2 separate regions of the Homo sapiens genome follow, and region 2 is linked to region 1. A link means that fine-mapping ties the variant in region 1 to the expression of a gene that starts in the linked region. Tissue or cell type: whole blood. Region 1 holds a variant in brackets; the other region holds the start of a gene. Each region is shown on its reference strand, or each on the opposite one.

The links. PIP is the estimated chance that this variant, and not a neighbour inherited with it, causes the effect.
Region 2: it holds the start of RORC, and the variant in region 1 is the best candidate, but not a certain one, in a credible set for the expression of RORC in whole blood (TOPMed, PIP 0.60).

The regions. Positions count from the first base shown.
Region 1 is chr19:16,328,377-16,342,376 of GRCh38, forward strand. It overlaps KLF2 (KLF transcription factor 2), which reads left to right. Exons shown (of 3, transcript NM_016270.4): 3 at 1-309. Among named protein-coding and RNA genes, the nearest start is that of KLF2, 11 kb to the left of the region's middle. RefSeq lists enhancers at 572-721, 2,565-2,674 and a silencer at 2,165-2,214. The variant C/T (reference allele first, on the strand shown) is at 3,595.
Region 2 is chr1:151,822,819-151,839,738 of GRCh38, forward strand. RORC (RAR related orphan receptor C) reads right to left here and starts at 8,984. Exons shown (of 11, transcript NM_005060.4): 1 at 8,907-8,984; 2 at 6,611-6,640. The coding sequence starts at 8,946. C2CD4D (C2 calcium dependent domain containing 4D) reads right to left here. Exons shown (of 2, transcript NM_001394591.1): 1 at 16,846-16,920; 2 at 15,000-16,402. The coding sequence starts at 16,171. The coding sequence ends at 15,110. It overlaps C2CD4D-AS1 (C2CD4D and THEM5 antisense RNA 1), which reads left to right and starts at 15,459. Exons shown (of 4, transcript NR_152846.1): 1 at 15,459-15,919. RefSeq lists enhancers at 1-266, 2,036-2,971, 6,233-6,918, 7,605-8,292, 16,749-16,798 and silencers at 15,556-15,655, 15,666-15,785, 15,856-15,945.

The DNA of each region.
Region 1 (14,000 bases):
ATCTCTCCCCCCAGATTTCACCTGCCACCCCTCACCTTCCCCATTCTCAGGGGCCCCGGGTAACCATGACCACCAACCATTGCACAAGTTTCCAGAAAGTGAAAATAGCTCGTAAGCAGCGCCTGCTTTAAAACACTCTCACCCCGTTGCGACAGAGGCTGGGATTTCCTCCCTCCCTGCATCCTTCCTCCTCCCCAACTACGGCAGCCCTGGAAACAGCTGAGAGGTGTTTGGTAATCCACGAAAAGCAGAAATACGATTTGACAATCTGATTCATTTTCCGAGAGTAAATAGCCTGGCCTCACTTCCGCTGCTGATGAAGGGTGTGAATGTTTTTGAGCCTCCTGTACCCTCTGCGTGCAGCTTCTGCAAAAACCGTCCCAAGACAGAATGTTGGCCCCTCGACCTGGGGAGATGATCCCCCTTTTTAAAAGCTGGCCTCTGCAGTGCAGGGGCAGAAGAAGGACTCGCGGGTGGTTTAAAACAATATTAAGGGTCTCCAGGTTTCCCTGTTCAGCTTAAACTTAGTGATCAAGCTATTTTTCTTGCTTATTTGAAAATGTCTTCCAGGTTTCTCCTGGAAGCTTCTGAGTCCAGTGAAAGGCAAATCGTTCACGGGGCTGAAGCTGTTTCTGTTTCTTGCGTGTATGTTCTGTTGGAGAACAGACAGAATAGAAAGTGTGATAGTTGTACGTTTCAGTAAGAGACACCAACTCAGGCAGCGCTAGGTCATACCGACTAATCCAGAAATATCCCATCATCATTTTTTTCTGCCCCTTTCTGACACTCAAATGCCAATTTCCATGATCTTCTGCATCTGTGATGCTCAGTGGAGAGTGACCCAGTCTGGGAACATTTTTGGTTGTCAACTCGGGGGTGCTGCTGGCATCTGGTGGACAGAGGTGGGTGATGTTGCTAAGCATTCTGCAGTGTACAGACAGCCCCCACCACAGAGAATAGCCCAGCTCTGAATGTCAGCAGTGCTGAGGTTGAGACATCGCCTCTGGTTCCTAAAAGATCATTGCTCTTATCAGCAAGAAGGTGACTCTGTGCCACGAAGCAAGCTTTGGTGGCAAATGCCACCCAGAAAAAGGTACAAAGAAAACCTCACCCTGGGGCCATCTTCACCTAGGATTCTACAACCCAATCCCAATGCAAGTTTTTCTTTCTTTCTTTCTTTCTTTCTTTCTTTCTTTCTTTTTTTTTGGAGACAGTCTCGCTCTGTTGCCCAGGCTAGAGTACAGTGGCACAATCTCAGCTCACTGCAACTTCTGCCTCCTGGGTTCAAGTAATTCTCCTACCTCAGCACCTCCTAGTAGCTGGTATTACAGGCGCGCGCCACCAAGCCCAACTAATTTTTGGATTTTTAGTAAAGATGGGGTTTCGCCATGTTGGCCAGGCTGGTCTCGAACTCCTGACCTCAGGTGATCCACCCACCTCAGCCTCCCAAAGTGCTGGGATTACAGGAGTGAGCCACCGCACCCAAACTCTCTCTCTCTCTCTCTCTTTTTAGAGCAGGAGATTTGTGGTCACTGGCTGAATTACTTTTCATGGCTGTGATTTTCGCTATATTCTTTCTTTTCCCCAGGCAAAGTTATAATCATTTGTCGATGCTGTTTTTTCCCCCAGTTATACATTTGTATTGTCATTTTCATGGCTGCATAATATTCCTTTTAGATATGGCAGGAGTTATTTATGGAAACAAGCACTGTGGGTAAAAGGGTTGAAAAGGGTGAAGGTTTTATTTTGTTTGGTTTGAGATAGGGTCTCATCTGTCACCCAGGCTGGAGTGCAGTGGCACAATCACTACAATCTTGACCTCCTGGGTTCAAGCAATCCTCCTGCCTCAGCCTCCCGAGTAGCTGGGATTACAGGCATGCATCACCATGCCCAGCTAATTTTTACATTTTTTTGTACAGAGGGGATCTCACTATATTGCCCCTCCTGGGCTCAAGCAATCCTCCCGCCTCAGCCTCTCAAAATGCTGGGATTAAAGATGCAGACCACCAAGCCCAGCTATGGCAGGGGGTGGGGGAGAGGTGACAGTTTTGAGGGGCTTATTGGCATGGTGCTGGGGAGAGATGTAGGAGCTATTTTTCTGCTAGGCACTTCCTGTAGTTCTGGGGGCCCCAGCACCCAGGCAGGCTGCAGAATGATGTGGTGTGAAGTGGGAGGAGGAAGGGGGCGTTGTCAGAGGGCAAGATGTCTATAGGCTCACCCCTGACTCAGCACCCAGCCCTGTCAACACGGTTGAGTCAGCACCCACGCCCGGCAGCCCCAGGTGGAGTCCCAGGACCATAGGCTCAAGCTGATTTGTCAGGTGCCAGGGCTGGGTGGCTCCGATTGCCCCGGCCTGAGCTGTGTCAGCTGTGCCAGACCAGCGAGCATCAGCCTTGGAGCTGGGCACAGCGGTGGCTCATGCCTGTAATCCCAGCACTTTGGGAGGCCGAGGTGTGGGGATCTCTTGAGCCAAGGAGTTTGAGACCAGCCTGGGCAACATAGAGAGACCCTGTTTCTGGGTGGGTGGGGGGCGGGGGAAGAGAGAGAGAAGAGAGAAAAAACAAAAGACATTTGGAGCTGAATCATTCTCCAGTGCGGGGCCACCCTGTGCACTGCAGTGTTCAACAGCATCTCTGGCCTTCACCGACTCAATGCCAATTAACACCCGTCCCCTGGCCAGACCCGGGGGCTCACACCTGTAATTCCAGCACTTTGGGAGGGCAAGGCGGGTGGATCACTTGAGCTCAGGAGTTCGAGGCCAGCCTGGCCAATATGGTGAAACCCTGTCTCTACTTAAAAAAAAAAAAAATTAGCTGGGTGTGGTGGCAGGCGCCTATAATCTCTGTCATCTCAGCTACTTGGGAGGCTGAGTCAGGAGAATCACTGGAACCTGGGAGGCGGAGGTTGCACTGAGCTGAGATGGCGCCTGGGTGACATAGGGAGAGTCCATCTCAAAAAAAAAAAGAAAGAAACCCTCAGATCAGCCGTGCGACTTTGCCTGCCTGTGCCTCAGTTTCCTTGGGTGGAAAATGAGTTTGCTGCTGTGAAAATGAAATGAGACACTAAAGCTCAGAGCCCACCCCTGGGGTGTGGCCAGCACAGTGAGTGTCCTCTGATAAAGCTGGTGTGCCTGAATTTTAAGGCCCCTTCCTCCCTCTCTCTCCCTCTCCCCACAACCCTCTTCGCTCATTCATTCATTCATTCACCTGTTCATTCAGCAGATGCTCTGTATGGCAAGCAGATATGACTCAGAATCTCAGGAGTGACTCTGGCCGGGCGCAATGGTTCACACCTGTAATCCCAGCACTTTGGGAGGCCGAGGCAGGTGGATCACCTGAGGTCAGGAGTTCGAGACCAGCCTGGCCAACATGGTGAGACCCCGTCTCTACTAAAAACACAAAAATTAGCTGGGTATGGTGGCAGGCGCCTATAATCCCAGCTACTCGGGAAGCTGAGGGACGAGAATTGCTTGAACCCGGGAGGCAGAGGTTTCAGTGAGCTGAGATCACACCACTGCACTCCAGCCTGAGAGACAGAGCGAGACTCTGTCTCAAAAAAAAAAAAAAAAAAAGTGACGTAGCCTCTGGGCCTTGC[C/T]CAGAGTCAGTGCCAAAATGTTTGTCGCATGACCTAACTTTGTGCTAACGGTGGACCCTGTGACTCGAGCTTGGGTGCTTTCATTCTGGGCACCTTCAACAAATTATCTCTTTCAACCTCCCCACAAGCCTGAGGGTTGCCTAAGCACCCCCATTTTCTAGAGGTGGAAAGTGGGGTTCAGAGAGGGGAAGGTTAGCTGGGGGACCTGGTGCAGGTGGCAGAGCTGAGGCTTCAACCCAGGTCTGCCTGGCCTGGCCACCGCAACTCCTCCTGTGCCTAGAAACATCTGAATGCACCAATGCATCAGGTTTGCCCTGTTTCCCTCCACACACAGGTTCTAGGGGTTCCTGGAAGCCCTGCTGAGTTCCTTCTAGGCTTTTGTCTAAAAGGAACTGAGAAGCCCATTTGCCAGGAATATCCCAGACAGGGAGGGACAAGGGGTCGGGAAGAGGCTGGGTGAATAGGGTTCCCTGAGGTGCCCTATAAGAAGTTAGGAGGAGGCCGGGCACAGTGGCTCACGCCTGTAATCCCAGCACTTTGGGAGGTCAAGGCAGGTGGATCATTTGAGGTCAGGAGTTCGAGACCAGCCTGGCCAACATGGTGAAACCTCGTCTCTACTAAAAATACAAAAATTAGCTTGGAGTAGTGGTGGGCACCTGTGATCCCAGCTACTTGGGAGGCTGAGGCAGGAGAATTGCATGAACCCGGGAGGCGGAGGTTGCAGTGAGCCGAGATCACACCATTGCACACTAGCCTGGGCGACAGAGGAAGACTCCATCTCAAAAAAAAAATAATAATAAGTTAAGACGAGCCTGGGGGCCAGACACCATGGCTCACGCATGTAATCCCAGCACTTTGGGAGGCCAAGGCAGGTGGATTACTGGAGGTCAGAAGTTCAAGATCAGCCTGGCCAACATGGTGAAACCCCATCTCTACTAAAAAAAAAAAAAAAATACAGAAATTAGCCGGGCGTGGTGGTGCACACCTGTAATCCCAGGTACTCGGGAGGCTAAGGCAGGAGAATCACCTGAACCCAGGAGGCAGAGGTTACAGTGAGCCGAGATTGCACCACTGCACTCCGGCCTGGGCAACAGAGCAAGACTCTGTTTCAAAAAAAAAAAAAAAATGCTAAACATGGAATTGCCATAGGTCCCAGTGATTCCATTCCTAGGTATAGTCCCAAGAGAAATAAAAACCGGGACACAAACAGATACTTGCACACACGTGTTCGAGGCAGCACCATTTACATGCGCCAGACGGTGGAAACAGCCCAAATACCCATCAACTCATGAATCAATAAAAGTGTGGTATATCCATATGACCCAGTGGTTTTTGTGTTTGTTTTTTGGGATAAGGTCTCGCTCTGTTGCCCAGGCTGGAGTGCAGTGGTGCGATCACAGCTAACTGCAGCCTCGAACCCCTGGGTTCAAGCAATCCTCCTGCATCAGCCTCTCGGGCTGGTTCTTACTGGGGGCTCCCCTGAGTGCAGAGAACAGGCCCAAGCTGATGCCAGTTAGGGAAGTCATCTCTATAGTTCTAGAAGGGATACTGAGCCCAGGAGGCTGGAGACAGGGGCCTCACCAACCCTCTGCTCGTAGCCTGAGCTCTTTCTCCAGCGTGATTTGATCTGCCCCATCACCGTGTTCTTTTCTCTCTCATCCCATATTTTCTTTCTTTCATTCTTTCTCTTTATTGTGATTAAATATACATAACATAAAATTGACTGTTTTTGTTTTGTTTTGTTTGAGACAGGGTCTCACTCTGTTGCCCAGGCTGGAGTGCAGTGGTGCGATCACAGCTCACTGCAGCCTCGACCTCCTCAGGCTCACGTGATCCTCCCGCCTCAGCCTCCAGAGCAGCTGGGACTATAGGAGTGTGCTACTACGCCTGGCTAATTTTTCTATTTTTTGTAGAGCCTGAGTCTCACTGTGTTACCCAGGCTGGTCGCAAACTCCTGGGCTCAAATGAACCATCCACCTTGGCCTCCCAAAATGCTGGGATTACAAGAGTGAGACATTGTGCCTGGCTAAAATTCACTTTTTTTTTTTTTGTGACAGAGTCTTGCTCTGTCACCCAGGCTGGAGTGCAGTGGCACGATCTCGGTTCACTGCAACCTCCCACCTCAAGTGATTCTCCTGCCTCAGCCTCCCGAGTAGCTGGGATTACAGGCGCACGCCAGCACAGCCGGCTAATTTTTATATTTTCAGTAGAGACGGGGTTTCACCATGTTGGCCAATGGTCTCAAACTCCTGACCTCAGGTGATCCGCCCCCCTTGGCCTCCCAAAGTGCTAGGAATACAGGCGTGAGCCACCACACCCAGCACAAAATTGGTTATTTTTAAGTGTTCAGTTCAGCAGCATTCACAGCATTGTGCCACCTTCACCACCACCCATCTCCAGAGCTTTTCCCTTCTTCCCAAACTGAAACTTTGATCCCATTAAACACTCACTTCCCATTCTCCCTCCCCAGCCACTGGCCCCCACCCTTCTTCCTTCTGTCTCTACAAATTTGAGCACTCTGAGGACCTCCTAGGAGTGGAATCATACAGTATCTGTCCTTTCCTGTAGTTTATTTCACTCAGCATAATGTCTTCAAGATTCATCCACGTGGTAGTGTGTGTCAGAATTTCCTTCCTTTTTATGACTCAGTAATATTCCATTGTGTGGAAGGACCACATTTTGTATGTCCATTCATTCCTTGATGAACACTTGGTCATTTCCACCCCTTGGCTGCTATGAACATGAGTGTGCAAATACCCATTCCAGCCCCTGCTATCAGTTTTTTGGGGCTGTGTCCCTAACAGTGGAATGGCTGGATACCCTTTTTTACTTTTTACTGTTAGTATTTTTTGAGACAGAGTCTCACTCTCTCGCCCAGCCTGCAGTGCAGTGGTGCAGTCTCAGCTCACTGCACCCTCTGCCTCCCGGGTTCAAGTGATTCTCCTGCCTCAGCCTCCCAAGTAACTGGGATTACAGGCGTGCACCACCTCACCCAGCTAATTTTTGTATTTTTAGTAGAGACGACGTTTCACCATGTTGGCCAGGCTGGTCTCGAACTCCTGACCTCAAGCGATCCTCCTGCCTCGGCCTCCCAAAGTGCTGAGATTACAGGCGTCAGCCAACGCGCCTGGCCTGGGTATCCTTTTTTAAACTTTATTCGTGGCTGCTGATAACGCTCAAAAGAGTTTTTCTTTCCTTAGCAGCTCGCCTAAGAGCCATTGACCCAGGCTGAGCATCGTCTGCGAGCCTCCCTGAGAGCTCAGATTCACACCAGCCGGCATCTGTCGCCTCAGCCTGCAACATTCTGGGCCTCGATTTCCTCTTCTTTGAAATGGGGGTAACAGCGCAGAGCAGTGGGAGCACGGCCGGTGCCCTGGCCTTGGGGGCCGCCCGGAAATCGGGGTTTTGCAGCAGCTTGGGTTGTGCAGAGAGGCAGAGGCTGTCAGGGAGATGGACGGGCCTGAGGTGGAGGTGCCGCTCACACCCGGCACACCCGCCGCCTGCTCAGCCCACAGCCTGCTCTGCGCAGCCAGCTCTGCGCAGCCAGCTCCCCTCCCCACCTAGGCCCCGGCCATCTCAAGACAGCCTCCTCCGGAGGGGACACAGACTCCTGCACACCAGACCCAGAGACTCTTAGGCCGGCGACTAAACTGAAAAGCCCTCACTCTGCAGGGTGGGGAAACTGAGGCCCGGGTATCCAAATCCTCCGGCAGACAGACGCCAACCGACCTACATGGGTCTTGGGGTCTTCCTGAGCCACAAACGCAAATCCCACAGGAGGAGCTGGTCCCTCAGGTGGGGTTCCTACCAGGGACATGGCTTGCCAGGATTTGACCCCGTTTTAACCTAGAACAGCCAGGTGTGCTGGCTCATACCTGTAATCCCAGCACTTTGGGAGGCTGAGGTGGGAGGACCACTTGAGGCTGGGAGTTTGAGACCAGCCTGGGGAACATAGCAAGACCCCATCTCTTAAAAAAAGAGCGTGGTAGCAGGCATGGTAGCATGCATCTATAGTCCCAACTACTCAGGAGGCTGAGGTGGGAAGATCACTTGGGCCCAGGAGTTTGAGGCTGCAGTGAGCTATGATTGTGCCACTGCACTCTGATATGGGTGATAGAGCAAGACCCTGCCTCTAATAAATAAATAATTATTTTTATAATTTATTATAAAATTATAAATGTTATAAAAATTAATTTAATTTAATTAAATAAAAAAAGCAAGGTAGCTCATGCCTGTAATTCTAGCACTTTGGGAGACCAAGGTGAGCAGATCACTTGAGGCCAGGAGTTCGAGACCAGCCTGGCCAACATGGTGAAACCCTGTCTCTACTAAAAATACAAAAAAAAAAAATTAAGCCGGGCGCGGTGGTGTGCAGGTATAGTCCCAGCTACTCGGGTGGCTGAGGTATGAGAATCACTTGAACCCAGGAGATGGAGGTTGCAATGAGCCACGATCACGCCACTGCACTCCAGCCTGGGTGACAGAGTGAGTCCCTGTCTCAAAATAAGTAAATAAATAATATCATCTAGAACGATGTAAACAGAACATTGCATTGACATTTTGTCAATTGCCACAAAATTGACATTTTGTCAATGGTTTGTCATTGCAAGCCATTTTGTTTTTTCTCTCCCCGCCATCCCCCCTCCTTTTTCTTTAAACATGGGGAGTTTATAAATCCATGAGACCTAACAAGCAGCTATAGGACACTCCACACAACAGCAGGACACACTTTCTTCTTGAGGGTGCAAGGAACATTCCCTGGGAGAGGCCAAAGAATAAATCCAGTGCATTGAAAAGGATCGCAATTCTATAAAGTATGTCCTCTGACCACAATGGAATGAAGTGAGAAATAAGAAACAGAGAGGAATTTGGCAAACTTAAGAAATATGTAGAAATTCAAGAACGCACTTGTAAAGACAAGGAGGACCTACTCTAAGATTCATCAGAAAATCCCAGCATTTGAGACCAGCCTGCGCCACATGGTGAGACCCCATCCACAGAAAAAATACAAAAAATCGCCGGGCCTGGTGGCGTGCACCTGTAATCCTAGATACTCGGGAGGCTGAGGTGGGAGGATCACTTGAAACAGGGAGGTAGAGGCTGCAGTGAGCCGCGATCGCATCACTGCACTCCAGCCTGGGCAACAGAGTGAGGCCCTGTCTCAAAAAAAACGAAAAGAAAAGAAAAAAAGAAAAAGGCCATGTGTAGTGGCTTACACCTGTAATCCCAGCACTTTGGGAGGCTGAGGCAGGTGAATCACCTGAGGTCTGGAGTTCGAGACCAGCCTGGCCAACATGGTGAAACCCCATCTCTACTAAAAATACAAAAAAAAAAAAGACAACACACACACACACACACACACACACACACACACACACACACACAAAACAAACTAGCTGGGCATGGTGGCAGGCACCTATAATCCCAGCTACTCAGGAGGCTGAGGTAGGAGAATCGCTTGAACCCGGGAGGCGGAGGTTGCAGTGAGCTGAGATCGCATCATTGCACTCCAGCCTGGGCAAAAAAGCAACACTCCACCTCAAAAAAAAAAAAGACAAAAAAACATTCTAGCAGTGGGAAGGTCCTTTAGGGGCCTAAGCTCCTGAGTGGGGACCAGTCCGGCTTTGTGCAGGGACTCAGTGCACCTGGGGCTCTCTCTGCAGATATGAGATGTGCATGGGCTCTTCTGGATGTTGCCCTAGTGAGTTCTGAGGGCTCCTGTGGGCTCGTAGCTTCTAGAGTGGATGATTCCCCCAAGATCACTGTGGGGAACACCAAGAGTGGCTGCTCCCCACAGCTTCAAGGCTGCCAGTGGGGACTCCACTGGAGGTCCGCTTCTGGGGGGCTGCCACGTGTCCCCAGCTTTAGTCAGGACCCCTCCCACAACAGCATCCCCTGCTCCCATCCACATCTCCAGGTCCTCCAACTCCTGTGACCCTTCCCCAATCCCACATCTTTGCACAGGCTGTTCCTCATGGCAAAAAGCCCTTCCTGTGTGTCCGTGGGGCAGATGCCAGTCCGCCCCCCAAGGCCTGGCTCCGGCATCACCTCCACTGGGAAGCCTGCCCTGATTCCCATAGAAGCACCCCAGCCTGCCCCGTGCCAGCTTGGACCTCACAGGGTGGGAGCGCCAGATCTGTGGCTGGCTCCTCCTTCCCACTAGACTGGGCAGCAGCAGAGAGGGGTGCTGAATGACTCGGGGGACCTGGTTGACAAGGGGTCAGGACCGTGAAGGGGACAGTGGTTTTACTCCCCTGTCATAGTCACAGAGAGCAACACACAAAATCCAAGGATTCCTGGGATGACAGAATTTCTGACCTCAAGGCCAAGATGATGCTGGGTAGAGTGTGCAGCGTGTAGTGTAGACGGGGACTTGGATCCGCTGGCCCTGGCTGCCTGGAGATGCTGGGTAGAGCACGTAGTATGCAGCGTAGACAGCATTCAGAGTCCCTCAGCCCTGGCTGCCCCTACCTCTGCCCCTTGCCCCTGGCCATGGCCCTGGGCGCACGCCTGGCCCTCTCTGAGCCACAGCTCCCTCCCACCAGGGCTGGTGAGAAAAGTAAACCGAGAGTGCTGTTTCCTGCCACCCTGCTGGGTGCTCAGCCTCCCTCCACCCGCATCCTCTCGAGTGGGTAGAATCCCAACTGGGGGCCCTCTGGCAGGGTCCGGGAGCTGGCACACGAGCAGGCACTCTGGCTCGGCCATGCATCCGTCCATGGGCCACTCGCCGAGACACGTGGCTCTAAATGGACACAGTCATTCAGGAAATAGCGCCTCGCCCACCGAATGCCAGGCGCCACTCAGCAGGCTGCTGTAACTCCGCAGGCTGCCTCCTGAATTGCCCTCCACTTTCAACCTTGACCCCAGGTTGGCCTTTCTGGGGACTGTCCCAAGATCGAGAGACACACTTCACAGCCAAGCCCTCGTCTGCAGCCTCGGAGCTATGAGATGTTCCAGCTCCAGGGAAAAAACTCAGGAATCAGAAGTCTGGCCAGCCCCATCCCACTCCTCTTGGCTTTAATGTAACTCAGAGGCACCGATCCTGGCTCTTGGGGCAGAATTCTCCACATTCCTGGTGTGTTTCCGTTGAACCCCAAACCGCAAACACATCCTGACATCTCATTTCCTCAATGTGCCCTGGTGGTGACTCGGGCCACCTTGCCGGGAGCTCGTTTTGAGTCATACAGAGATTTGTCGAAGGAAGGGTTTCTCATCTCAGAAGTTGGAGGCCGTTCCCACCAACCTCCCTCCCTGCATCTGTACAAGAATTGCTGGCGGGGCTGCTATTCCCTGATGCTTGGATCTGAGCTCTCAGTGACTCGGGAGGCACTGGCCAGGGGCCCTGGACAAATCTAAGCTCAGTTCCTTATGTCACCACTGTCAACCTCAGGCACGGGAAGGCGGCTCTCAGTCTCTTTCCTCCTCTGTAGAGCTGGGCTCTTAGCAGCTATCTTGGCCGGGCTCTATCTCAAATGGATGGAATCTGGGCTATGCCTGACACATAGTAGGTGCTCAGTGAAGGAATGGTGCCCATTAGTGAGAGAGGGAGACAGGGCTGGGCATGGTGATGTGCACCCGTGGTCCCAGCTACTTAGGAGGCTGAGGCAGAAGGATCCCTAGAGGCCAGGAGGTCGAGACAGCAATGAGCTATGATTGCACCGTTGCACTCCAGCCTGGGCAACAGAGCAAGACCCTGTCCTTAAAATAATAATAGTAATAATAATTTATTGAACTCCTGACCTCAGGTGATCCACCCGCCTCGGCCTTCCAAAGTGCTGAGATTACAAGCATGAGCCACTGTGCCTGGCTGAATAATAATCACTAAAAAATTAATCTAAACATAATTTCTAGGCTGGGTGCGGTGGCTCATGCCTGTAATCCCAGCACTTTGGGAGGCCAAGGCGGGCAGATCACCTGAGGTCAGGATTTTGAAACCAGCCTGGCCAACATGGCGAAACCCTGTCTCTAATTTAAAAAAAAAAGAAAAAAAAAATTAGCCCGGTGTGGTGGTGCATGCCTGTAGTCCCAGCTGCTGGGGAGGCTGAGAATTGTTTGAACCCAGGAGGTGGACGTTGCAGTGAGTTAAGATCATGCCACTACACTTCAGCCTAGGCAACAGAGAGAGACCCTGTCTCTAAATAAATAAATGAGAGAGAGAGAGAAAAAAAATCCAAGGAAACAAGCCCATTCATTCTACTTAATTCCGCTGGTCTCTGGGAGGCAGGTTGGGGGTGGAGAAATTCCATGTTTTTACAGAATCCTGACGTCACCAGCAACTGCCCCACCAGGAGCTAACTTCAGCACGGGCGGAGGGAGGGTGTCTGCCCACGACCTGACCTTGAACTGGGCCTTTCTTAAATGTAAATGTGCATCTCCTTTGGTGCTTTTTTAAGTGGGAGAGGTCCCTGAAAGGTTGTTGCCTGGAGGAAAAGTTTTGGCAATTAACTTTTATTATTGTTTGCTTGCTTAAAGAAACTGGGGGCCCAGAGCAGTGAGTGGCTTATGCCTGTAATCCCAGCACTCTGGGAAGCCGAGGCGGGCAGATCACTTGAGCCCAGGACTTCCAGACCAGCCTGGCCAACAAAAATTAGCCAGGCATGGTGGAGTGCACCTGTAATCCCAGCTACTCGGGAGGCTGAGGCAGGGGGATCACTTGAACCCGGGAGGCAGAGGCTGCAGTGAGCTAATATTGCTCCACTGCACTCCAACCTGCTGGGCGACAGAGTGAGACTGTCTCAAAAAACAATTGGGATGTTCATCAAAGCACTATTCATAACAGCCAAAAAGTAGAAACAACCCAAGTGTCCATTAGAGAATGAATAAGAAAACTGTGATCCATACATACAATGGAATATTATTCAGCCATGAAAAGGAATGAAGCACTGATCCATGCTACAATGTGGATGAGCCCCCAAAACATTCTGAGTGAGAGAAGCCAGACGCGAAAGCCCACATAGTGTGAGATTCCACTGATACAAAATGCCCAGAACAGGCAAATCCAGAGAGACAGGAAGCAGATGAGTGGCTGCCAGGGGCTGGGGGAGGGGAATGGGGAGTGGCTGCTGATGGGGACAGGGTCTCCTCTTGGGGGATGCAAATGTTCTGGAATTAGACAGAGGTGATGGTTGCACAACATTGTGAATGCACGAAATGCCACTACCGTGTACACTTCATGGTTAGTTTTATGTTATGTGAATTTCAGCTCAATTTTAAGGTGTAAAAAAAGCAATTGAGAATAAGTTGCTTCTGTTGTAAAACGTTACTTTTTTTTTCAGACGGAGTCTTGCTCTGTCGCCCACGCTGGAGTGCAGTGGTGCAATCTCGGCTAACTGCAACCTCCGCCTCCCAGGTTCAGGTGATTCTCCTGCCTCGGCCTCCCCAGCAGCTGGAATTACCGGCGCCCGCCACCACTCCCAGCTAATTTTTGTATTTTTAGTAGAGACGGGTTTCACTGTGTTGGCCAGAAGGGTCTCAAATGCCTGACCTCAAGTGATCCACCCACCTTGGCCTCTTAAAATGCTGGGATTACAGGCATGAGCCACCATGCGCAGCCACATTACTATTTTTAATACAGTTATTTTGTCAATATAACATAAAGTTTGGACCGAGTATCCACTGATGAATGAATGGATAAACAAAATGTGGTCTATCCATCTATCCAGACAATGGAATAGTATTCAGTTTTTAAAAAGAAAGAGATTATAGGGCCGGGCGCGGTGGCTCACGCTTGTAATCCCAACACTTTGGGAGGCCGAGGCGGGCGGATCATGAGGTCAGGAGTTCGAAACTAGCCTGGCCAACATGGTGAAACCCAGTCTATACTAAAAATACAAAAATTAGCTGGGCGTGGCGGTGCGTGCCTGTAATCCCAGCTACTCGGGAGGCTGAGGCAGGAGAATTGTTTGAACCCAGGAGGCGGAGGTTGCAGTGAGCCGAGATCACGCCATTACACTCCAGCCTGGGCAGCAGTGCAAGACTACAATTCAAAAAAAAAAGAAAAGAAAAGAAAAGAAAAAGAGAAAGATTCTGACACATACATGCTCCAACAGGAACTATCCTAAGTGAAATACGCCAGACACAAAAAGAGAAATACTGTATGAGTCCATGCATCAGATTCATAGAGACAGGAAGTAGAATGGTGGGTGCGAGGGGCTGGGGGAGGAGGAAATGGGGAATGAGTATTTAGTGGGGGCAGAGTTTCAGTTTTACAAGCTGACAAGAGCTCTGCTGCGTAACATGAATGGACTGGGGTGAGCCGTGAGGGCTGGAGGGCCCTCAGACAAGAGAAAGGATGACAGTTCCAAGGCTTCAAACAGATGCTCTGAGAGAACCAGTCCTCAGAAAGGCTGAGAATCCCTGGAATTTTTCCTGGGCTGGAAGGGATCTGCTCTATGGCTTAAAGGTCT
Region 2 (16,920 bases), not on the chromosome of region 1:
GGAAGGGGCTGCACTGCAGCAGCAGGCGTGGAGGTGAGACTTCAGAAAGGACTAGCTATATGGGAACAGGAGCGCGGGCCTTGGGCTGCCCGCCTGGGAGAGACCTTAGCCCTTGGAAAGTCCTGTTCCCTGTTAGTTTGAGTCAGCAGCACAGCGGCAGGGGATGGGGAGGAGCCCTTGGTAGGGACCGAATATTTTCATTGTGCTGGGACAAGCTGAGTCTTTTCAGAGTCTAGCACCTTGGGCTCGGTGGTTTGGTATTTCTGTTAGGAATGGGAAGACGGGGAAAGAGAAGGGTGCTGGAGTGATGAAAGGAAGGAAGAAGCCCTTCACGGAGTCCTAAGATGGCCCTGGGCTCTCAGGGTGATATCTGTGTACCCTGGGGACTTGGAGTCCTTTCTGGCCCACTGTTCCTCATGATCATGACCAAACCTAAGAAAGATCAGCTCATAGACAGTGACCTCACACCCCTCGGCCTCCCACCTCCCCATCCAGACCAAATGCCAGGGCCTGAGTGCCTATTGGCGCCACGCTGGCCATGCCCTTAGGGGAAGATGTCTGGGCTACCCTCCGTCTGGCTGGCTGGGAGTCTCTTTGGCGTACAGACACATTATCTCCACTTGACAGCAGCAGGTCGGATGGCAGGGTGCTGGTGCCATCCTTGTCAGAGCCACCCTACTTCCCTCTTACCGCTTGCCTAGACCCTGTGTCTCCCTGTCTTCCCTTTACTGCCAGTTATCTTTTCTCTCCGCCTCTCCCTGTGTCTATGTGCCTTGTGATCTTCTGCATTCCAGCTCTGTTTCTGGGCTTCACACCTTCATGTTTGTTTGTTTGTTTAAGAGACAGGGTCTCGCTCTGTCACCTAAGCTAGGGTGCTGTGACATTGATCATAGCTCACTGCAGCCTTGAACTCCTGGGCTCAAACGATCCTCCTGCCTCAGTCTCCTGAGTAGCTGGGACTACAGGTACACGCCACCATGCCCAGCGAATTAAAAAAAACTTTTTTTGTAGGGACAGCGGCTCACTTTGTTGCCCAGGCTGGTCTCAAACTCCTGGCCTCAAGCCTCAGCCTCCTGAAGTGGGATTATAGGCATGAGCCACCACGCCCGGCTGCACCTCCATGCGTTTGGCTCTATTGGTGTTTCTCCAACCACACCTCCAGCTGGACATTACTCTCTCCCTAGGTGTTCCAGAAACTCGCCCTCTGAGTTGGGCCTCTGCATCTCTCCTTATTTCTTGATTTGTTTCTGCTCCTTTTGTCGGGCCCTTGGTCTCTGGGTGTGTCACAGTCCCAAGCCCCATGTGCTTTGACTTTTGCCATCGGCGGTTGGAGGGGCTGGTGGTGGTTGGCACTCATTGGGGTCAGATAACTTGGGGCTATGAGATACCTGTAAATGTCCAAGTGAGAAGGACCAGTGGCACTGACCCCCTCGTTGGAGGAGGCCCTCTCTCCTACTTCCCCGCCTGGGTGGGGCTGTGTGTGTGTGGTGGGGGTGGGAATAATGGAGAGCTGGCCAAGTGTCTCCCTCAGCCCCTCCTGGGGACTCCTGCCCCGCTGCTGGGCTAGAAGCACACCTAGTCATTTCATCCCAGGGTTGATTTGCTCATTAGGGGCCATCTCTGGGAAGACCAGTCTGCCAGCGTTTGCTGCTAATAGAGAGAAGCTAGAAGGGAAACGGAAGCTCCAAGGGGCCCTTTCCTCTGTGTAGAAGCTGTTGGCTCTTCTCTCCAGCCCTCCTTATCCACCCCAGCTCATATGCCTGCACTGTGGCCTCAGTCCCTGTCACAGAAGTGGAATTCTTTTCTTTCCTTGGTTTCCCTTCCTTCTAACCTCTGGGAGAGCTGAGTCTCCATCATCACCCTTGGGGATGCCTGCCTTAGGGCACTGGGCTCTCTCTTGGCCCTGGGCCTTTGGAATGGGAGACTCTCCATAGTTGGTTTTGTTGTTCTATCTTAAAATTCAGCTCCCTTGTTTTGCGGATGGTAGACCAGGGCCCAGTGACTTGGCTTGTCTAAGTCTATATGGCTAGCCAGTGATAGGCGGCACAAGTGCCTGGTCTTACACTGTCAGTCCAGGGGTCTTTCCAGGACTCAATACGGCCTCCCTTCTGTGGCTTGTGGGAAGACCCCAGGTTGAAGCTGGGGCTGCTTCAGGCCTCAGCCACAGGGGCATGGGGCTTCCCTTTTCCTCCTTCACCTTGTGCTCTGAGAGCTTCTCTGGCTTCCCTGGCTTCCCTTCACAACAAATACAGGGGACTTCCTGAGGTTGCCCACCCTTGCTCTGCTGGAAGGCACAGGAACCCCAGACATCTGCCCACCAACTGTTGGCCCAGGGCTCCAAGCCAGGAAAAGGGTGAGGCCGAGGTCTTTCCAATCCCATCTCCATTGCCTTGCTTCCCCGGTCAAATGGGTGACTGACCCTGGAGAACCACACACACACATACACACACACCCCACACACACACGCACACACACACATGCACACACACGCAGGCATGTGCCCGGGTGCACCCTGACTGGATTCCACATAGTCCTCATGTCCCTGGATTGGGCAGAAAGCCTGGTGGCTTTGAGGCCTGGACGCGGGGATTCTGTGCCCTGCTGCCTGCCAACCTCAGTTGACTCTCGCTGTCCTGTTGCTTCAGAGCACAGCAACTGCTCTGGCCTCCTTTTACTCACAAGCAGGCTGGAGGCACAGAGGGAAACACCGTAACAAGGGAAACACTGTAACAGGAGAGTGCGTTCAGGGCCCCTAGTAATTACCAGCCCCCATCAGATACCAGCTGTGTAACATTGGGCCAAGTACGCGGCCTCCTTGGCTCTCAGTCTTTTTGTAAAATTAAGGGCCTGGATACCTCAGATACTTTTGGAGGTTCTTTTTGGAACTCAGGAATTCCTCAACAGTCCTCTTACCATTGCTGCTGTCAGGGAGCCGCCTGGCCAGCAGGACTCCCCAGCTGCTCCACCCATCTCCCAACAGATCTTGACCTTGACCAGGACGCACCCTGCTTTGCTCAGATTTGCTCACACTGTTCCCAAGACATCCTCCTTTCCAGAGGGGTGACGACAGGGTCCAGGCTCCCCCGCCCCCAGGTGGCCCCATTCACTTACTTCTCATGACTGAGCCTTGGCTCTGCCGGCCTTGGCTCCCTGTCCTTCTCAGCAGGGGGTGGTCCAGGAGTGGGGTGCAGCTGGCGGCAGAGGCGGGGCGAGGCCCTCTCAGCAGCGCCTCAGCCTGAAGCTCTGCACCTAGCTCTCTCCCCCAGTGCTTCTGGACTGGGGGGTTTAAGCTCTGCACCACACAGGTGGCCAAGTGACAACCCCCCACCCCACCCCCAAGGGGTGCAGTGAGTAGGATGACAGGCGCCCCACGTGGCCAATCTGGGCCTGGGGCAGGGTGTGAGGGGAGGGGCAGCCAATCGTAGGGGGCGTTGGAAAATTCCAAAACCACATGCGACAGCCACACGCGGTAAAAGCTGTTTCCACCCGCCAGGGTAGTTCTGGCTGGGGAGCCAGAATGGAGCTCACACGAGCCTGAAGCCAAATTTCTACTCCTCCTACCCCCGAGGACCTTCCAAGCCTGACCCTCTTTGCCAGGTGACTTCAGGGACAGGGATGTTTTCAGAGGTAAGTCACAGGATGTCTGCCTGGGGTGGTGGCATGTGCCACCTGACACCCTGTGGACTGCCAACAGCCATACCCAGTGTGGTGCAGCCTGGGGGGCTGTCCCACCACTCCCATGCCCACGCTCCTCCCTGCAGACACCACATATATCTTGCGCTAGGGAATACATGGAAATGATAGAAGCAGTAATAATCACCAGGCAAATACCCACAATCCACAGAAGGAAACCAGAAATTTCCTTAGGAGCCAAACTGCTGAAATTGGAGTGTAGATAATGATCATCATCACCATCATCATACTCATAATCATAATAATAGTGCTTACTATTATGTGTCAGAAATGGTTCTCGATGTTTTATGTGGATAATCTAATCCTCACAAAATACTTTATGTGGGCCGGGGGCAGTGGCTCACGCCTGTAATCCCAGCACTTTGGGAGCCCAAGGTGGGTGGATCACCTGAGGTTAGGAGTTCGAGACCGGCCTGGCCAACATGGTGAAACCCCATCTCTACTAAAAATACAAAAATTAGCCAGGCATGGTGGCGAGCACCTGTAGTCCCAGCTACTCAGGGGGCTGAGGCAGGAGAATCGCTTGAACCCGGGAGGCGGAGTTTGCAGTGAGCTGAGATAATGCCACTGCACTACAGCCTGAGCAACTGAGTAAGACTCTGTCTCAAAAAGAAAAAATAAAAAAACTTTATGAAGTAGCTACCATTATCCTCATTTCGAGGAGGAAAGTGAGACACAGAGAGGTTAAGTAACTTGCCCAAGGTTACACAGCTAGTAAGTGGCAGAGTCAGGATTCAAGCCCAGGCAGACTGGCTTCGGATCCCACTTGAAGGATGGGAGGGTTTCTCTGGTTCAAGTCTGCTTTTGAGGGTGTCTCAGCCTGGGAGGTCCCTCGGTATGTGAGTCTCTCTGGAGTGTTTTTTGGCCTGGGGGAGGGGGGTCCTTCTCAGGGGCCAAACAATTCCAGAGACCTTCTCAGCCTCTTAGGTGCTTTGTGGGGTACATTGGCTTTGAGAGTCCCTCTTCAGGGCCCCTCAGTATTCAGGCTCCCTCTTGGTCTGGGGAGTTCCCCCGGGTTCCCCATCTTGGACCCCCATCTTGGGGTTGTCTCAATTCAGGAGCCAATTTTCAGAGTCTCTCGGCCTGGGGGAGGCCTTAATGTCTCCTGGATTCTGTGGGGCAAACTCCTGAGAGGTGTCTGATCTTGCTGGGACTCCAGACCCTCTCATCCAGGCACAGGCCTTTCCTTGCCTTCCTGGGCCTTCCTGGGGCTTCAGGAGCTGGGCCGTGGAGTGGGGGAGAGGCTGTCAGCCTGGATCCTCAGGACAACACTCTTGGGGTGGGGACACGAGGACTGGTGGGATGGGAAAGGGATAAGGAGGTATAGTCCTGGCTGAGGTTTCTGAGGTCAGGGGTTAAGGGTAGGAATAGGGTTTGACCTCTCCCAGTTCCTGCTGCTCCGAAAGTCCCCCTACTCCCCCCACCCACATAAGGTCCGTGACCCCCCTCCCCCAGCTCACCCGCGTCACTCCCTGACCCGCTTTCCTCCCGGGGCCCTGCTCAGCATTTCCGTGGGGCCCTGTGGCTAGGGGCAGGCGAGACACTGATCAGGATTATGCTGAGCAAAGCAACCCCCACCCAGGAGGAGGTAGCATCCTGGATGGCCCTCAGCCCTGGGCTGCCCAGCTCATGGAGAAGGGCAATGCTTTGCTCTCTGAGATGTCTCTACTTGGAACAGGGAGGCTCTAGACAATTTTGGCATTGGGCGAGATGGCAGTGAGCTCTCAGGAGGAACTGGCAAGGCAGTCAAGGGACGGCTATGGAGAAATGGTGTGGCCACTCCTACCCTGGAGGGATCCTCTCGATTCAGGGACCCATGCTCACAGAAGGGCACGCATGGCCCTGATGGGCATAGCTTTGGGACTGTGTGCATTCTCTGGGGGACTAGCCTTTGCCACAAACTAGGAGAGGAGAGCTGATGTGCTGAGTGGTCCCTAGAGAGGATTCTTATTCACTAGCGTCCACTGGGAAGTCCTCTCTGAGCTCTAGTGCCCTTCTTACCTGCTGTAGTCTGGCTTTCAGGGCCCCAGGACACAGAGTGCCCCTGTCCATTCTGTTTCCTACAGAGATAAAGCTCTCCTGCTCTCTAGTCCTGCACAGGCTGGCTCCAGGCTTGTTCACACCTCAGGATGTGTTAACCACAGAGATGAACACCAAACCTGGCTCAGGACCACAGAGCTTGGTGCAGGCTGGGCACAGTGGCCCATGCCTGTAATCTCAGCACTTTGGGAGGCCGAGAGGGGTGGATCACAAGGTCAAGAGTCTGAGACCAGCCTGACCAACATGGTGAAACCCCGTCTCTACTAAAAATACAAAAATTAGCCAGGCGTGGTGGTGGGTGCCTGTAGTCCCAGCTACTCGAGAGGCTGAGGCAGGAGAATCGCTTGAACCTGGGAGGTGGAGGTTGCAGTGAGCCGAGATTGTGCCATCGTACTCCCGCCCAGGCGACAGTGTGAGACTCTGTCTCAAAAAAAAAAAAAAAAAGCCTGGTGCAGGCTCCCTGTCTCCCTTGGCAGCAGCGCTGAGTTCCTGAGTTCCTGAGGCCACCCCGCCTCCGCACACCCCCCTACCTCTATCTCCTTCCTTCCCCGGCCTGGCAGTCGGCCCCACCCCCTCCCATCTCCCTGCCTCTGTCCAGCATTTCTCCTCGCCTTTTTTCACAAGGCGGTTCCCTTTTCCTTTGTTCTCTCCTGGTTTCTTTACAGTGTTTCCTTTCATGCTTCAGGCTTCTTCCTCATCTCCTCCCACTGCCCTGATCTGTGGTTTCCTCGCACCTCCCCTTGCTTTCCTGTTGCCTGCCATCTCTTCCTGACTCCTCCACCTCTGTCCAACCTCAGTCCCCCCACAGATCACTTGCTGAATTATTCTCCATCTCATTATGCCCCAGCCATTTTCTTGCCCCGGACCCCCTACTCACAGGTGTGGGTCTTCTTTGCAGCCAGCAGCTCTGTAAAGACAAGAGAGGGGGTTGACGTCAAAGGTTGAAGATCATGAGGGGCTGAGACACTTTCCCCACTCCTAGGATCCCACTGCCGCACTCCTTCCCTCAGAGCCTGGCGTCTGAAGGGCAGGCAGGCCACCCCCTGCAGTGCCCCTCTCTCCTCCTCTGCCCTTGGGCCACACTGGCCCTCTTCCAGGTACCCAGAAGTGTCAGGCTCCTCACTGCCTCTGGGACTCCCCCAAGCTGCTCCTTTGCCTAGAATGCCTGTCCCTCCTGTACCCCTTAATCTAGCCAACTTCTCTTTCTCCCTCAGGTCTCTGATTATGTTTCTTCCTTGGAGAAGCCACACACACCCCCTTCCCCTGCCCTTGTGCTGACACATTTAGCTCCTTGCATTTTATTTCCTGGCACTCACCATGTCACCAACTGTCACCTAACTGCTGTAATTGTGTCATTGTCTATGAAATGGGTCTTTCCTGCCAAATTGTAAAGCCCTGTGAAGGCAGGGACTGTGTTGGTCTTATTTACTTTGTAATTTCATTGGAGGTGCACAAGAAATATCCTACAGCCAGAGTTAAATCTCTGTGGGACTGAAATCTCTTGGTTGCTTATCTATGCCTGAAAACACCAGGGCTTCAGAGATGTGGGGGTTGGGAGTAGGGGGAGAGGATGTTTGGAGGAAGAGGAGGGGAGAGTTGCAAATACAGACCCCTCTCTGGCTTCCACGGGCCAGGCTTCCCTGGCCTACCAGCCTGAAGAGGAAGGCCTCCCTTCTCTGCTGCTGCTGCGTGGCCGGGTCTGGGTGGAGATTGGGCAGTAGGGAGCATGAGTGGGTCGATGGGGGTCACATGGATACTCGGACCTCCAGGGGGAGCAGCCGTTGAGGGGAGGGCCTTAGCTGGAGCATGGTTGGTGGGTGGGGGGGTGTCACCCATTCATGCAGTTAACATCTATGAAACACCTAGCCAGGGAGCCCCTGGAAAGAGGATTCCCCTGCCAGACCTTGGCCCATTTCCTACATCCACATAGCAGCTCATCACAGAACACATGGCCAGTCTTTTGTCTCAGAAAGCCCTTCAACCATGCCCTATACCCCCTATAGCTTCCCTAACCTCTGACTCTATTCTGTTATTTTTTTCCTTCTGCTGTTCAGTCTTGACACCTGACATACACACACACACACACACACACACACACACACACACACACAGTGCCCTTCTGCCCGGGAGATGCTCCCCACTGGCAGGCCGTGGTCACTAGGCTGTGTGGAGGCGAGTGGCCTGATGGCCTGGGCTCTGCTGGGGTGAGGGAGGAGAAAAGACTGCCCCGAGGTGGCAAGGCCCCACCCAGCCCCGCCCACCTCCCCTTGCTCCTGCCTGGCCCCACCCAGCTTCCTCCCTGACGTGGCACCGGCTCCTGGCCTCTAGCCTTGCACCTCAGAGCAGTCCTGTGGTGGGGGTGCTCCCCTTGCTCACCCAGGCAGCCAGTTCTTCCTCCACCAGGTGGCCCTGGAGCTTGGTGGCTCTGGCCCTCAAACTTTCCTCCTCCATGCTCACAGCTGACCAAGCCTGTGGCCCTGCGATCCTGCTCTGAGGGGGTTCCTGACTTGGACCATGGGTGGGGCCAAGGACGGCCTGACATTCTGTCCTTCCCTGCTGATGGCCCAGTGCCCCACATTCTCTGCAGAGATGAAATCCCACATCCCTGGGTGAGTGGCGAGGAAAGGACCAGGCTACGTGGTCATGGGCAGCTGACAGGGTGTGGTTCCCCCTGCCACACTCCCCAAGTCTGTCACTCCTTAAAGGACAGGTTTCTCCACTGGTGAATGAACAGAAGGTGGAGCAGCCAGCCTCCCGGCCACTGCTGTCTGGGGTCCTGGCCAGATCAAGGAAGCAGTGTCCCTGTGCCTCCTGGGGGGTAAGCCCACACCTGGGAGGGCCTGTCCACATTCTGACCCCTCGCTGGGTCTAGATCTGGCTCCCCTGACTTGGCTCTTCCCTCCCCATCTACCCTCCAACCTGTTTCTTCCTTCTCCCGCTTCTCCCTTTCTTTCCTGTTTCTCTCCTTTTGCGATTTCTTCTCCTCTGTCATCTCCCCAGCCCCTCCTCCTGTTTCTCCTCCAGTTTCACTCCCTGCCAACCCAGGGCTTTCTCCTCTGCACTCTTGTCCCTCCCTCCCCTCCTCACTTCTTGCCCAGTCTCTTGCCATTTCTGCCCTCCTCTGAACCTCCAGCAGTCTCTTCCACCTGCAGGCAGGGCCATGGGCCTCTTACCCCGTGAGGCTCGGTGCTGTCTCTGTGGGGCCCTGTCCATGGGGCAGCTCCCTTGGTGCCGTCCTGGCTGCCCTGGCTGCCCAGGAGGGCAGGGAGCAGGGCCCAGGGGAGGGAGGAGGGCGGAGGGTGGAAGGCGGGAGCACCTGGCCCTCCAGCAGGCAGGGAAAAGGAGTGGCTGGCAGAGTGTCCTGGCACCAGGAGGGGACATGAGGAGAGACCAGTGGACCAGTGCATGGAGCCTTGAGGAGAAACAGGACAGGAGAAAGGAAGGGAACTAGCATTTATTAATCACTTACTGTGTGCTGGGCCCTTTGCAGGACACTTTATGTAAATCCATGCTTTTACTTTGTGTAAATATTCACAGCACCCACCACAGGGAAACATTATTATTCCAGATTGATCAGTGAGTGGAGGGATTCTCAGAGATATTAATGATTTTGCCCAAGGACTCACACAAGAACAATAAATGGGTGAGCTATGATTTGGACCCAAGTCTTTGTGACTTTAGAATCCTGTGATTTCTACCTAAGACAGGTGACAGGCATAGGGGAGATGGAGAGGGCAGGTTTGGGGGACTGTGTCTCTTCTCTAGGATGCAGTCAGACTCCTCCCAGTGACTGTTCAGTTCCCTGAGGCCTCTGCCTGCTCGGCCCCTGCCCCTAACCCTTGCTGCTCTTGCCAGGACTCCCTGACCCCCTGATGCTTCTACGTGCTCCTCATCTGTTGGGGCAAGGGGCAGGCCTGGAGGAGTGCCTGGAGGCAGAGAAGCCATGGTGGGGAAGAGGAGAGGAGAGATGCTGCACTGGACTCATTGGGAGAAGGAGAGGCTCCCAGACCTAGTGGCCCACACTGAGGCCTGCAGTGAAGGCTCTGAAGGGGGCCAAGAGGACGAGGCTTCTGGGGATCCTGGTGCTGCTTTTCTCCTGCATGGCCTGGGCCCAGAGTTTGATTAGCTGGGCCTGACTCTCCTGGTTACCCAACAAGCAACTGGCCAGGGGCCAGGCTGCAGCAAGAGGCTCCCTGGCACCTCCTCCTGCTCTCGTTCCCAGCTGGTAAACAGCAGAGCAGGAGTCAGCCATGCCACAGCCTCGTGACTCGCCCACTCCCCCCCACCTGGTGCACGTGGCACCTGGCATGGAGAGGGCAAGCAGCTGTCCCTTCCCTCTTCTGCCGTCTCGTCTCGCCATCCTCCACTCCTGCCCAACCCTGGAGCTTCACACTCTGCTACCATCAGCACCTCTGTTCTTAGGTAGCTCCCAGAGTCTCCCCATGGCTGCAGATTGAGAGATAAAGGTAGAAGTGGAGAAGGACTTTTCAACTCCTAGGGTCATTGACAGTGGATGAGTAGTGAGAAAGAGGAGGGGAAGTTTTGGGGACCTTCTGCACTGAGTCTAAGGGTATGTGCCTATGCCTCTGAGGCTCTGATTATCCCCCGTGTTCTTTTGGTAAATGTGGGCCCACGCATCCATGTATGCATCTCTGCACAGAACAGGATGTTGGTCTGTTTGGGGGCTCTGCACCTTGGGCAGGTTTGGAGTGAGAGGTAAAGTGCTTTGCAGCTCCCTTCCCCCCCGCCCCCCCAGCACCCTCCAGCTGACAGGAGGAGCCAGCAACATGCCGGGCGTGGGAGTGCAGGGGAGATGCCGTTCTGCTCCCCTCCTCCCCAGAACTCCTCAGTTATCCCCCATCTCTCTGTCTCTCTTTGCTGGCTCCTGCCTGTCTGTGGCTCTTCTCCAGCTGTCCCCTCTCTATCTTTTCTCCTTTTTAGGCCTCTCTTCCTCTTGACTCTGGGTCTCCCAGGGGCCCTTCGTGACTACCTCTTCTACAACCCACCAATTGCAGGCACAGAGTGGAGGTCACGTAGAATGCTTGCGGATGGACACAGAGCATCCCCAGACACTGCAGGCACAGCTGACTCCCCAGTTGTGCCACTTTGTGCTACTATGTAGGGTGGGGAGGAAGTGACTGGAGATTTAGAAGACAGTATCCTGACCTCTAGGCCTAGGAGTGTCACATGCTTCCTAGGCATTCTCTACCTCTCCCCTGCCCTAAGCATGGATAGTTTGAGTTTTTTTTCTCCCCAGGGCAAGAAGATCCCTTGGTTATCCTTATGGGAAGTTCCCCCTCTTGTCTAAACTTTCTCCCTCTTGCTGCAATCACAGCCCCTTATCTGGAAGAATCGTCCTTTCAAAGCAGGGCGGTGGTTATTTCCTCTTCAAATACAATCTTATATAAGGAAGGGGCTGATAGGGATCAGAGAATCATTTCATCCCCACGTGCCCAGTCCCCTTATTGGGGAAATCTCCATGCTGGGGGCAAACACTCTGGAAGGGATGGGAGGTGGTGGTGGTGGCTTGGAACTGGGGAGCAGTCCCCAGCATCTCTTTCCTTCCTTCCCCAACCCTAAACCACAGAAACCACTTAAAGCTCAGCACAAATCTGCCCTTTCAGGGAGGGCCTGGGGGTCAAGGTGGAAAATATGTGGAGCCTGGGTAGTCTGCGGTGGCACACACTTCCCCAGCCCCATCCTTGGAGGGCCCTCTCCTTGGGATGCCTGATCCAGTGATTAGGGACCACTTTTCTTTGGGTTCTAGGGGGTTCCATGCCTGGGGACGCCTCAACCCACTGGAGTGACTCAGGGATGGGTTGTGCCTCAACCGTTGAAAAAGGACAGCCCAGGCTCTGTAACCTTCGGTAGCCTCCAGATCTCACAGTCCCCACCCCTCCCCCTTCTTGTCACAAAGGCCACTGTGGGTGGAGGAACAGTGGGAGTTTGACCCTAGCTCCTGGCCTTGAACTTTCCACAGTGACCCTGCTTGTACCTCTCCTCTACCAATTAACATTTATAGTCACACAGGCTTGGAGGTGGCAAGAAGGGTTTAAATGCTGGGGCAGAATCACTTATAAGAATGTGGTCTGCCATTTACTAGCTGTAGGCCCTGAGGGAAATCTCAGCCCTCAGCTACCACATCAGTAAAAATGGGGCAATAATACCTGTCCTAACTAGTGGATTTTTTTGTTTTGTTTTGTTTTTGAGACAAGGTCTCACTTTGTCACCCAGGCTGGAGTGCAGTGGCGTGATCTCAGCTTACTGCAGGCTTGACCTCCTGGGTTCAAGAGGTCCTCCTGCTTCAGCCCCCCAAGTAGTTGGGACTACAAGTGCATGCCACCACATGCAACTAATTTTTGCATTTTTTGTAGAGATGGGGTTTCACCATGTTGCCCAGGCTGGTCTCAAACTCCTGAGCTCAGGTAATCTGCCCGCCTCAGCCTCCCACATTTATCCACTTATCAAAGTGTTAGGATTACAGTCATGAGCCACCACACCTGGCCTCTGACTAGTGTTTATAGAAGTGCTTTGGGGCCAGAGCAATCTGCACACTGGAGGGTTTCTTAGGACCTCCTCACTCCCATGTTTCTGTACTTTAGCTACCCAGGATGTTCCTCCAGCAATGCTAGGGCCCCCATCACAGAGCCTCAGGGCTGTGAATGCTGAGTGAACTGCTCCTGGGAGGAGTGGCCTTGGATTTCCTCACAGCTTCCCCTAAGCAGTTGGGGTGGCAGTGGGGGTGTCTGGGTGGAGTCAGGTCAGAACCTTTCCCTCCAGCCAGGGCTGTTCCCCAGGCAAGCTTACTTAACCTATCTATCTGATCCATTTCTTTCTTTGTAAAGTGGGAATAATAATACCTACTCTCCTGAGTGGTTGTGACGCGGTGGCTTACGCCTGTAATCCCAGCACTTTGGGAGGCCGAGGTGGGTGGATCATGAGACCGAGACCGAGATCATGAGACCAAATCAGGAGATCGAGACCATCCTGGCTAACACGGTGAAACCCCGTCTCTACTAAAAATACAAAAAACCAGCGGGTGTGGTGGCACGCGCCTGTAGTGGCAGCTACTCGGGAGGCTGAGGCAGGAGAATCACTTGAACCTGGGAGGTGGAGATTGCAGTGAGACGAGATCGCACCACCGCACTCCAGCCTGGGCAACAGAGTGAGACTCCGTCCCCCCACCCCAAAAAAGAGGAATACTAATATCTACTCTACTGAGTGGTTGTGATGATCAACTGAGATAACACAGATAAAGTTCAGGACCTGGTCCAAAGTACTATGGTTAAAAAAAAAAAGTTTCCTCTCCTCCCTCCCTCTTTCTGTCCCTATAATCTTCCCTTCTCTTTATCTGACCCCTCTTTTCTATTCCCTTTCTTGCTTTATTTTTCTCTGTAACATATCACCAAGTAGCATTCTTTACATTTTAATGGCTTATTTTATCACTTTTCTGATCCCCATGTCTGTTTAATCACTGCTGTATCCAATGCCTGCCACCTGATGGACCTTCCCGAAGTATTTGTTGAAGGAATGCATGAATGAAGGTTCTACGGCCTCTAACTTTCTTTCCAGATACTTTCAAATGGGCATCAAATCCAGTTTCTCACCAAGGGTTGTTATGGGAGAATTTGGGGGCTGAAATAGAAATCCAGTACTAGGGGTAGACCTAAATCTATAGGTAGACTTCCCAGAATTCAAACATGGGATTTTAAACTGGCAGGGTACGAAACCTTTGCAGAGCTACCATCTTAGGGAAGGAGGCCCCTTTTAGAGTGACTTGATTGGGAGGCAGCAGCTGGCAGTGGGGGGTATTATCTTGAAGTGATTAAGAGTCCACACTCTGGAGCCAGACTCCCTGAATTCTTCCCTTTACTAGCTATGTGAGTCCTAGTTCTTCCCTTTACTAGCTATGCGAGGCCCAAGATCCCATTGGATAATAATAGTATTTACACCCTAATAGAAGGTGCTGGGAGGAATAAATGGCTTGACTAATTGTTGGAACAGTTCCTCATGTGGTTATAATCCATGTGTAGTAGTTAGCACTTAGGATTGTTTGGTCAATGCCACCACCTGGTGGACACCTGGAGCAAGAGTTCTCTGGCCTAGGGCTGGGTGGTGCGGACCCAATCAGGGAAGGGAGAAGGAACTGGAGAGCTGTCTGAATGAAGCCGTGTGTGTGTGTGTGTGTGTGTGTGTGTGTGTGTGTGTGTCTCTGTGTGTGTGTCTCTGTGTGTGTGTGTGTGTGTGTGTGTGTGTGTGTGTGTTGGAATTTAACGTGTCCAGGTGCTGAGGCTTTTGAGGTTTTGTCAGATCCCGCAAGCTTAGCCCTGGTGCAGGCCACAGCTGGCACCATGAAAAATGAGAAAGGGCCCAAGGGAGAGGGAGAAAGAAGTTGGGTTAGCCTAGTGCCTACCTCACTTCCTCCCTCCCTCCTCCAAGCCTGGCCTGAGTCCAGAGGAACCGGCTCCTGGGAAGGTGGAGGGAGAGAGAAGAAGGTCACTGCTGACGTCAGGGACATTCAGGTAGAGGTAAACACAATGTGACCTACAATTATCCACCTCCCCCCACCCCCACCTCCTTCTGGCTGGAGGAGGCTCTTCTGGCATTCCTGAGAACAGTTCTCACACTTTGGTAGTACCCCACCTCCCCCCTTTCAATCCCTGGGACATTATATCTCATTCATTTGGTACCCAAGCACCTCTCTGGTTCTTGGCTCCAGACTTGCCCCACCCCTCAAGGGACGCACAGGTGTGGAAGAGGCAAGAGGGAAGAAGGAAGACTAAAGGGCACTCTGTGTTCATCTGACATCCCCTGACTCACTCTCAAGAGCCAGAAATTTCATCTGTCTTCAGGACAGATGTGGGTTTTAGAGGGGCACAGGAAGGGAGTGTTAATTTCCTCTGTGCAGCCTCAAGTGGAAGGTGGCTTGTGTTGGTTTCTGTCAGAGTGACTCAGTGATTGCAGGGCTCCCTGATTGTTCGGGGGCCTTGTTGGCCGGGGACCTTAGGACCTACTTGGCCCAGATCTACTGAAGGAGCATCTCATAGGGATGGAGCCCAGGACCCTGCATATTTAAAAAGCTCTTCCAGGATTTCTGATGTCTGGTTATTCTGATGCTCCTTCAAGCTTGAGAACCACTGCTTAAGGTCTGCTCTACTCAGACCGTCTGAATGAGCATCTTCCCCCCGCGTATGGCCGGGATAGAGGGAAGATCGGTAGGCTCTATGCCCGAGCGTGTAAGGTGCCAGTAAGGGGAAATATCTGGCTAAGGACAAGGGGACATTTTATTAGCAAAAATAAATACAAGCCGGGCAGGGTGGAAAGAATGTGGACTGCAGACACAGTGGAGACGTCCTGAGGAAGCCAGGGGCTCAGGCTACAGGCTGAGATGGGTGGGCGCCAGGGATGACCCGGGACCTAGTCCCCCACCCAGCGGGGGCAGCAGCGCAATGAGGGGCGTCTCGCACTCCCCCAGCAGCACATCCCTGCGAAGTCCCGCGCCCCTGTCTAGCACCTTGGCTCTCAGGCTGCGGGCGGCCAGGTCCGGGGGGCCGAGCCCGTCGAAAAAGAAATCCTCGTTGAAGATGGGGTTGGCGCTGCACTTGACCACGCGGCTCTGCTGCTCCCGCGGCCGGACGCGGGGCCGCAGCCTCAGCACCACACAGCAGCCGCCGCCGCCGCTCCCGGGGCGGGACCGCGGCCGGGGCAGGCCCTCGGCGCTCACTAGGCGCAGCCGCAGCCGCCCGGGCCCGGCCTGATATTCGGTGGAGAGCCGCAGCTGCCCGCCGCGGGGCCCCAGGCGCAGCACGCTCTCGCGCGTGGGCCGCAGCTGGCAGCACAGGAAGTCCAGGTGGAAGAGCGGCGGCGTGGGCGGCCCGGCGCGGCGCGGCGAGTGCGGGCTGGTATCGGCCGAGCTCGCTTTTTCTGGGGACAGAGAGTGAGGCCTGGACACCCGGCGCCGGCCCAGGCCTGGCCGCGGGGAGCCGAAGGGCGACGAGTCCGGCGACGAGGCCGTGTCGCTGTCGGGGGCCCGGCAGAGGCGCAGGTCCGGGGCGGAGACGTGCAGCCGGGACTGCGCCGCGGGGAGTCCCCCGGCCGGGGCAGGTGGCGGCCCGTGGAACAGGGATTCCCGCCGGCGCGTGTGCGGGCTCTCGGGCAGGAAGGCCCAGCCTTCGCGGCCCGCCAGGTGAGGCAGCGAGCAGGTCGCGGGGAGGCCGCGCCCCGCCACGTGCCGCCGGGCCGCGGGCACTGCGCCGCCCGGGTCCGGGAGCCGAGGCGGGATGAAGAACTGCGGGATGCGATCCGGGGTGAGGACGTTGGGGCAGGCGCTTGTGGGCGGGCCCGGGGCGCGACGCTTGGAGAACAGGCCGGAAGGCGCCCAACGGGCCGCAGGCTCCGCGGCCCCCACCTTATAGCCAGCTTTTTCCAAGAGCCACATGCGGTGGGTGGGGTAATGGAATTCCGAATTCCGCAGGGCCGAGAGGGTCCAAATCCCGTCTCAGATGGGAGTGCTCGGCGGAGCGGGGCTGGGCGAGGAGCGCAGAGGAGTCAGAGGTGAGTGATGCTGGCGTACACCGGGCGGTCAGCCACCGCGCCCCGGTCTCCGGACCCACTGGGAGCGCGGACCCCTATTTGAGCAGAAAAAGAAAGGGCGGCGCAGTCTGGGGGGCTGGGGAGAAATGGAGGGAGCAAAGGGCCAGTCAGTCACATTTTCATATACGGGCCTCCGTCACCAAGTACACAGATTCTCCCACTGGTACTAAAGATGCCCCATTCACCTTACAGTTAGAGGGCCCATATAGTATCCACCAGAACCCTAGGGTACTATTAGGACAAATAGGATAATAACCGCATTATAGCAAAAGGACTCAGATCCCAACCCCCCTGGGACACTGCGCCCTAGGCGGGCTCACGCCCTCCTCCCCCGCCCATTTCGAAGACTTGGGTTTTCCTCTGGGATCCAGTCTGGCGCCCCTTGGGACTTCCTCCCTTTGCCAGGCTGCCCCGGCTCAAGCTTCTCTGGCCTGAGCCATCCCTCAGTCCTAGCCCCACCTGCCTCCTCTGGCTCCTCCTTCCCCTCCTCGAGTCGCTCCAAGCCAGAAGAGGACTCACTTCTGCTCCTGGCAGCCAGGGGACACACCTGGCTGCTGACCTCAGGACACCCTGGGCTGGTCCAAGGAGACGCAC